Homo sapiens: one gene and its partner. The protein of the gene in region 1 interacts with the protein of each later gene in a biochemical or structural test. Each region holds a gene or a part of one and is shown in the gene's direction. Other genes may lie near its edges.

What was found. Proteins that work in one complex are often made in the same cells at the same time.
Region 2: of the proteins of PTEN (region 1) and MEX3C, one has a biochemical effect on the other in vitro, tested with the Homo sapiens proteins (2 studies listed by BioGRID).

The regions. Positions count from the first base shown.
Region 1 is NC_000010.11:87,964,614-87,968,361, forward strand, and holds part of PTEN (phosphatidylinositol 3,4,5-trisphosphate 3-phosphatase and dual-specificity protein phosphatase PTEN), read left to right. Parts: intron 1-673; coding exon 674-859; 3' UTR 860-3,748. UniProt on the Homo sapiens protein: Dual-specificity protein phosphatase, dephosphorylating tyrosine-, serine- and threonine-phosphorylated proteins.
Region 2 is NC_000018.10:51,195,608-51,199,355, reverse strand, and holds the start of MEX3C (RNA-binding E3 ubiquitin-protein ligase MEX3C), read left to right. Parts: upstream 1-1,674; 5' UTR 1,675-2,035; coding exon 2,036-2,789; intron 2,790-3,748. UniProt on the Homo sapiens protein: E3 ubiquitin ligase responsible for the post-transcriptional regulation of common HLA-A allotypes. Binds to the 3' UTR of HLA-A2 mRNA, and regulates its levels by promoting mRNA decay.

The DNA.
Region 1 (3,748 bases):
ACTCAGCTGTTTGTGAATTGAATTTTGTAATTCAAATGCTATATTATGTAAACTATTGATGACTTTCAATCTGCATTTATTTTGTATAATTATTTAGTTAATATTTGCCACTTATATTCCTTAAAAAATAAAATTGAGGTTGGGCGTGGTGGCTCACACTTGTAATCCCAGCACTTTGGGAGGCTGAGGCAGGCAGATTGCCTGAGCTCAGGAGTTTGAGATCAGCCTGGGCAACATCATGAACCCCATTTCTACTAAAATACAAAAAATTATCTGGGCATGGTGGTGTACACCTGTAGCCCTAGCTGTTTGGGAGGCTAAGGCACGAGAATTGCTTGAACCCGGGAGGCAGAGGTTGCAGTGAGCCAAGATCATGCCACTGCACTCCAGCTTGGCAACAGAGCAAGACTCTTGTCTCCAGAAATAAAAATAAATAAATTGTATTAACATCCTGATAGTTTATCTGTTTAGTACCTAGCAAGAAAGAAAATGTTGAACATCTTAAGAAGAGGGTCATTTAAAAGGCCTCTTAAAGATCATGTTTGTTACAGTGCTTAAAAATTAATATGTTCATCTGCAAAATGGAATAAAAAATCTGTTAAAAATATATTTCACTAAATAGTTTAAGATGAGTCATATTTGTGGGTTTTCATTTTAAATTTTCTTTCTCTAGGTGAAGCTGTACTTCACAAAAACAGTAGAGGAGCCGTCAAATCCAGAGGCTAGCAGTTCAACTTCTGTAACACCAGATGTTAGTGACAATGAACCTGATCATTATAGATATTCTGACACCACTGACTCTGATCCAGAGAATGAACCTTTTGATGAAGATCAGCATACACAAATTACAAAAGTCTGAATTTTTTTTTATCAAGAGGGATAAAACACCATGAAAATAAACTTGAATAAACTGAAAATGGACCTTTTTTTTTTTAATGGCAATAGGACATTGTGTCAGATTACCAGTTATAGGAACAATTCTCTTTTCCTGACCAATCTTGTTTTACCCTATACATCCACAGGGTTTTGACACTTGTTGTCCAGTTGAAAAAAGGTTGTGTAGCTGTGTCATGTATATACCTTTTTGTGTCAAAAGGACATTTAAAATTCAATTAGGATTAATAAAGATGGCACTTTCCCGTTTTATTCCAGTTTTATAAAAAGTGGAGACAGACTGATGTGTATACGTAGGAATTTTTTCCTTTTGTGTTCTGTCACCAACTGAAGTGGCTAAAGAGCTTTGTGATATACTGGTTCACATCCTACCCCTTTGCACTTGTGGCAACAGATAAGTTTGCAGTTGGCTAAGAGAGGTTTCCGAAGGGTTTTGCTACATTCTAATGCATGTATTCGGGTTAGGGGAATGGAGGGAATGCTCAGAAAGGAAATAATTTTATGCTGGACTCTGGACCATATACCATCTCCAGCTATTTACACACACCTTTCTTTAGCATGCTACAGTTATTAATCTGGACATTCGAGGAATTGGCCGCTGTCACTGCTTGTTGTTTGCGCATTTTTTTTTAAAGCATATTGGTGCTAGAAAAGGCAGCTAAAGGAAGTGAATCTGTATTGGGGTACAGGAATGAACCTTCTGCAACATCTTAAGATCCACAAATGAAGGGATATAAAAATAATGTCATAGGTAAGAAACACAGCAACAATGACTTAACCATATAAATGTGGAGGCTATCAACAAAGAATGGGCTTGAAACATTATAAAAATTGACAATGATTTATTAAATATGTTTTCTCAATTGTAACGACTTCTCCATCTCCTGTGTAATCAAGGCCAGTGCTAAAATTCAGATGCTGTTAGTACCTACATCAGTCAACAACTTACACTTATTTTACTAGTTTTCAATCATAATACCTGCTGTGGATGCTTCATGTGCTGCCTGCAAGCTTCTTTTTTCTCATTAAATATAAAATATTTTGTAATGCTGCACAGAAATTTTCAATTTGAGATTCTACAGTAAGCGTTTTTTTTCTTTGAAGATTTATGATGCACTTATTCAATAGCTGTCAGCCGTTCCACCCTTTTGACCTTACACATTCTATTACAATGAATTTTGCAGTTTTGCACATTTTTTAAATGTCATTAACTGTTAGGGAATTTTACTTGAATACTGAATACATATAATGTTTATATTAAAAAGGACATTTGTGTTAAAAAGGAAATTAGAGTTGCAGTAAACTTTCAATGCTGCACACAAAAAAAAGACATTTGATTTTTCAGTAGAAATTGTCCTACATGTGCTTTATTGATTTGCTATTGAAAGAATAGGGTTTTTTTTTTTTTTTTTTTTTTTTTTTTTAAATGTGCAGTGTTGAATCATTTCTTCATAGTGCTCCCCCGAGTTGGGACTAGGGCTTCAATTTCACTTCTTAAAAAAAATCATCATATATTTGATATGCCCAGACTGCATACGATTTTAAGCGGAGTACAACTACTATTGTAAAGCTAATGTGAAGATATTATTAAAAAGGTTTTTTTTTCCAGAAATTTGGTGTCTTCAAATTATACCTTCACCTTGACATTTGAATATCCAGCCATTTTGTTTCTTAATGGTATAAAATTCCATTTTCAATAACTTATTGGTGCTGAAATTGTTCACTAGCTGTGGTCTGACCTAGTTAATTTACAAATACAGATTGAATAGGACCTACTAGAGCAGCATTTATAGAGTTTGATGGCAAATAGATTAGGCAGAACTTCATCTAAAATATTCTTAGTAAATAATGTTGACACGTTTTCCATACCTTGTCAGTTTCATTCAACAATTTTTAAATTTTTAACAAAGCTCTTAGGATTTACACATTTATATTTAAACATTGATATATAGAGTATTGATTGATTGCTCATAAGTTAAATTGGTAAAGTTAGAGACAACTATTCTAACACCTCACCATTGAAATTTATATGCCACCTTGTCTTTCATAAAAGCTGAAAATTGTTACCTAAAATGAAAATCAACTTCATGTTTTGAAGATAGTTATAAATATTGTTCTTTGTTACAATTTCGGGCACCGCATATTAAAACGTAACTTTATTGTTCCAATATGTAACATGGAGGGCCAGGTCATAAATAATGACATTATAATGGGCTTTTGCACTGTTATTATTTTTCCTTTGGAATGTGAAGGTCTGAATGAGGGTTTTGATTTTGAATGTTTCAATGTTTTTGAGAAGCCTTGCTTACATTTTATGGTGTAGTCATTGGAAATGGAAAAATGGCATTATATATATTATATATATAAATATATATTATACATACTCTCCTTACTTTATTTCAGTTACCATCCCCATAGAATTTGACAAGAATTGCTATGACTGAAAGGTTTTCGAGTCCTAATTAAAACTTTATTTATGGCAGTATTCATAATTAGCCTGAAATGCATTCTGTAGGTAATCTCTGAGTTTCTGGAATATTTTCTTAGACTTTTTGGATGTGCAGCAGCTTACATGTCTGAAGTTACTTGAAGGCATCACTTTTAAGAAAGCTTACAGTTGGGCCCTGTACCATCCCAAGTCCTTTGTAGCTCCTCTTGAACATGTTTGCCATACTTTTAAAAGGGTAGTTGAATAAATAGCATCACCATTCTTTGCTGTGGCACAGGTTATAAACTTAAGTGGAGTTTACCGGCAGCATCAAATGTTTCAGCTTTAAAAAATAAAAGTAGGGTACAAGTTTAATGTTTAGTTCTAGAAATTTTGTGCAATATGTTCATAACGATGGCTGTGGTT
Region 2 (3,748 bases), on another chromosome or scaffold:
CAGCCTGGGCAACAGGGTAAGAACCCAGTCTCTACAAAAGATAAACAAAATTAGCCACGTGTGGTGATGCGCGCCGGGCGTGGTGATGCACTGGGGAGGCTGAGGCGGGATGATCACTTGAGCCTAGGAGGTCAAGGCAGCAGTGAGCTGTGATCATGTCACTGCACTCCAGCCTAGGCGACAGAGTGAGACTCTTGTCTCAACAAAAACAGAAATAATAACCTCTAGAAAAGATAGCCACTGCGTGAGATCACCTGAGCAATACTGTGGGAAGAGTGTCTAGGGAGGAGGAAACGGGGATTCATTTTCTTAAAAAGCACCAAAGAGCTGGGCGAGGTGGCTCACGCCTGTAATGCCAGCACTTTGGGAGGGCGAGGCGGGCGTATCACTTGAGGTCAGGAGTTCGAGACCAGCCTGGCCAACATGGTGAAACCCCGTCTCTACTAAAAATACAAAAGTTAGCTGGGCGTGGTGGCACGTGCCTGTAATCCCAGCTACTCGGGAGGCTGAGACAGGAGAAACTCTTTTTTTTTTTTTTTTTTTTTTGAGACGCAGTTTCGCTCTGTCGCCCAGGCTGGAGTGCAGTGGCATGATCTTGGCTCACTGCAACCTCCACCTCCCGGGTTCAAGCGATTCTCCTGCCTCCGCCTCCCGAGTAGTTGGGATTACAGGCGTGCGCCACCATGCCCGGCTAATTTCTGTATTTTTAGTAGAGACGGGGTTTCACCATGTTGATCAGGCTGGTCTCGAACTCCTGACCTGACCTCGTGATCCGCCCGCCTGAGCCTCTCAAAGTGCTGGCATTACAGGCGTGAGCCACTGCAAGGGGAAGCTCTTGAGCCCGGGAGGCGGAGGTTGCAGTGAGCCAAGATCGCACCACTGCACTCCAGCCTGGGCGACAGAGCTGGACTCCGTTTAAAAAAAAAAAACAAAAAACCCCGAAGAGCTAAACTTCAGCACCTCCAGGCTGCTGATGTAACCATCCTGCCGGCAGAGAAGCCGGGCCAGCGGGGCGTGGGAGGAGCATTCCCGAGTCCGAGAGGGAAGGCCCGGGAGCCACGCGGCTCAGGAAACCGCCCCCGCGAGGGGATAGGAGGATACTGCGTGGCCCCTCCTTCCGTGACTCTTCTTAAGGCCCTTCCTCTGAAGGGGGCGATCTCTTCCTCAACCCAAGGAAACAATGCTCTCGAACCTATGCCTGCAGCTCTGCTCCAGGCCGCTCACACAGTGCCTTCCCTAAAAGAACTCAGCCACATGGGCTACAGGGATGAAGGGTTGGGGGGAAACAAATCCAGGTGTGCGCTTCGACCGCACGCGCCTGCGCCAAAACCCCGCTTGGCCCTTAGTTTCAGCCTCTGCTGCAGCGCCTTCGTCCGCCTCCTTTTTCCCGCCCCCGCCGGGGACGTCACAAAGAGTGACGTGTAAAGTGAACAATCACAGTCCCTCTCCGCGCGTGCCGGGAGGAATGAGAGGGAGGTGGGCGGGGAGAGGACGGAAGGAGTAGGCTTCGGGAACTGGCTGGTCCCGGTCACCCAATCAGAGAGCTCTGGGGAGGGGAGGGGCGGGGCCCGAAGGAGGGTGGGGGGTGGGGCTGGGGAAAGGAGTTGGAAGGCTGCGGGAGGAGAAGGCGGGCTCCCAGAGATTAAAAGCACCCAATCAGAGCGCGCCGGCTTCATTCGGAGAGCGGCGTGGGGCGTAGCCGCCGCCGCCGCGCGCGCCGGGGGCTGGTTAAGGCCATGAAACAAAAGAAACACTGAGAGGGGAGCCGCTGCCACCTCCACCAGCCCGCCCCGCCGCCGTCCCCACCCACCCACCTAGTTACCTACCTCTGCCTCCTTCCCCTGCCCCTCCACCCCGCCCTCTCCGGTCTCCGGGCGGCCCTGGCGCTCCTCGGCCCGGGTCCCCAGCCCCGCCGCCTCCCCAGAGGAAAGGTGTTTGCGAGCTGAGCAGGGCCCTGGCCCTGTCCGCCATGGGGCTCGCCGCCTGCCGCGCCTGACCCGGCCGCCGCCGCCGCCATTGACAGCGCGCCGCCGCGATGCCCAGCGGCAGCTCCGCGGCCCTGGCCCTGGCGGCGGCCCCGGCCCCCCTGCCGCAGCCGCCCCCGCCGCCGCCGCCGCCACCGCCGCCTCTGCCGCCGCCCTCGGGCGGCCCGGAGCTCGAGGGGGACGGGCTCCTGCTGAGGGAGCGCTTGGCCGCGCTAGGCCTCGACGACCCCAGCCCGGCGGAGCCCGGCGCCCCGGCGCTTCGGGCCCCGGCAGCGGCGGCGCAGGGCCAGGCCCGGCGGGCGGCGGAGCTGTCTCCAGAGGAGCGGGCTCCGCCCGGCCGGCCCGGGGCCCCGGAGGCGGCCGAGCTGGAGCTGGAAGAGGACGAGGAGGAGGGGGAGGAAGCGGAGCTGGACGGAGACCTGCTGGAGGAGGAGGAGCTGGAGGAAGCAGAGGAGGAGGACCGGTCGTCGCTGCTGCTGCTGTCGCCGCCCGCGGCCACCGCCTCTCAGACCCAGCAGATCCCGGGCGGGTCCCTGGGGTCTGTGCTGCTGCCAGCCGCCAGGTTCGATGCCCGGGAGGCGGCGGCCGCGGCGGCGGCGGCGGGGGTGCTGTACGGAGGGGACGATGCCCAGGGCATGATGGCGGCGATGCTGTCCCACGCCTACGGCCCCGGCGGTTGTGGGGCGGCGGCGGCCGCCCTGAACGGGGAGCAGGCGGCCCTGCTCCGGAGAAAGAGCGTCAACACCACCGAGTGCGTCCCGGTGCCCAGCTCCGAGCACGTCGCCGAGATCGTCGGCCGCCAGGGTGAGTGCAGGGGTGGGGAGGTCCAGCTGGGCATGGCCCCGGGCGTGGGTGGGGAGACGAGAGAAAGGAGCGTGGGACGGAAAAGGCGAACCCGGCGAGGCCCCCAAGTCCACCGCGAAGGGGTCTGGGAGGAGCCGAGGGTCGACCAGATGTGAAGATGGGTCACCTTGCGAAAACCCACGCTTTTCCGCCCGTCTTGCCTGGTAAAAAGTGTGAAGTTTCTCGGGCGACCCAGTCCGGTGGTGTTCACGTTACTTGGGCTGTATTCGTGGAACACCAGGCTGGCGTGGCACCAGAAACCTCAGTGAGGTGGTAAAAGGTCGGGCTCGAGGAGTTGTGGGTTCGCTGTTGGGTACGGAAAGCTTCGAGATTGCAAGTTTGCGCCGCCGAGTGTCTTCTAAAAGCGTTCAGCCTCCCTTACAAGAACTTGTTCAGATGGAGAAAAGAACAGAAATGGAGGCCTGTAGACAGAGCTCACTGGGGAGGGAAGGGGTGTTCAAATGGTCGGTATCACCGCCATCCCCTGCCCCTCCGCTGTTGAGAAACTTAGCTTTGGAAAAGCAGCCCAACTCACTGCCGCCTATCTTAACTGTATTTCTCTCGGTACGTTTCAACTCTCGGAAAGACACACTGACACACTGGCTGTCTTTTAAAACTGTTCAGTGTGCAGGATGAAGAAAAAATGGACACTAAGGTAATTAAGAAACTTCATCGGTTTATACAGTTTTCAGTTAATTCTCCTCTTCACTTGCCAGCACACCAGTACTGCAGACAGACTCCTCCCACATTGTTCAGACAAAGGACCTGTGTCTCAGATTCCAGGAGTAGATTTGTGAAGGTGGGGGAAGGGGATGCCTGGGGTACCTCTGTATCCGACATTTTTAGGGAAGGTCCTAAGTTCTTTATGGTAGCATTTCCCCTTTATGAAAGGGGCAGATGTTACCTGCTGCCACCGCATG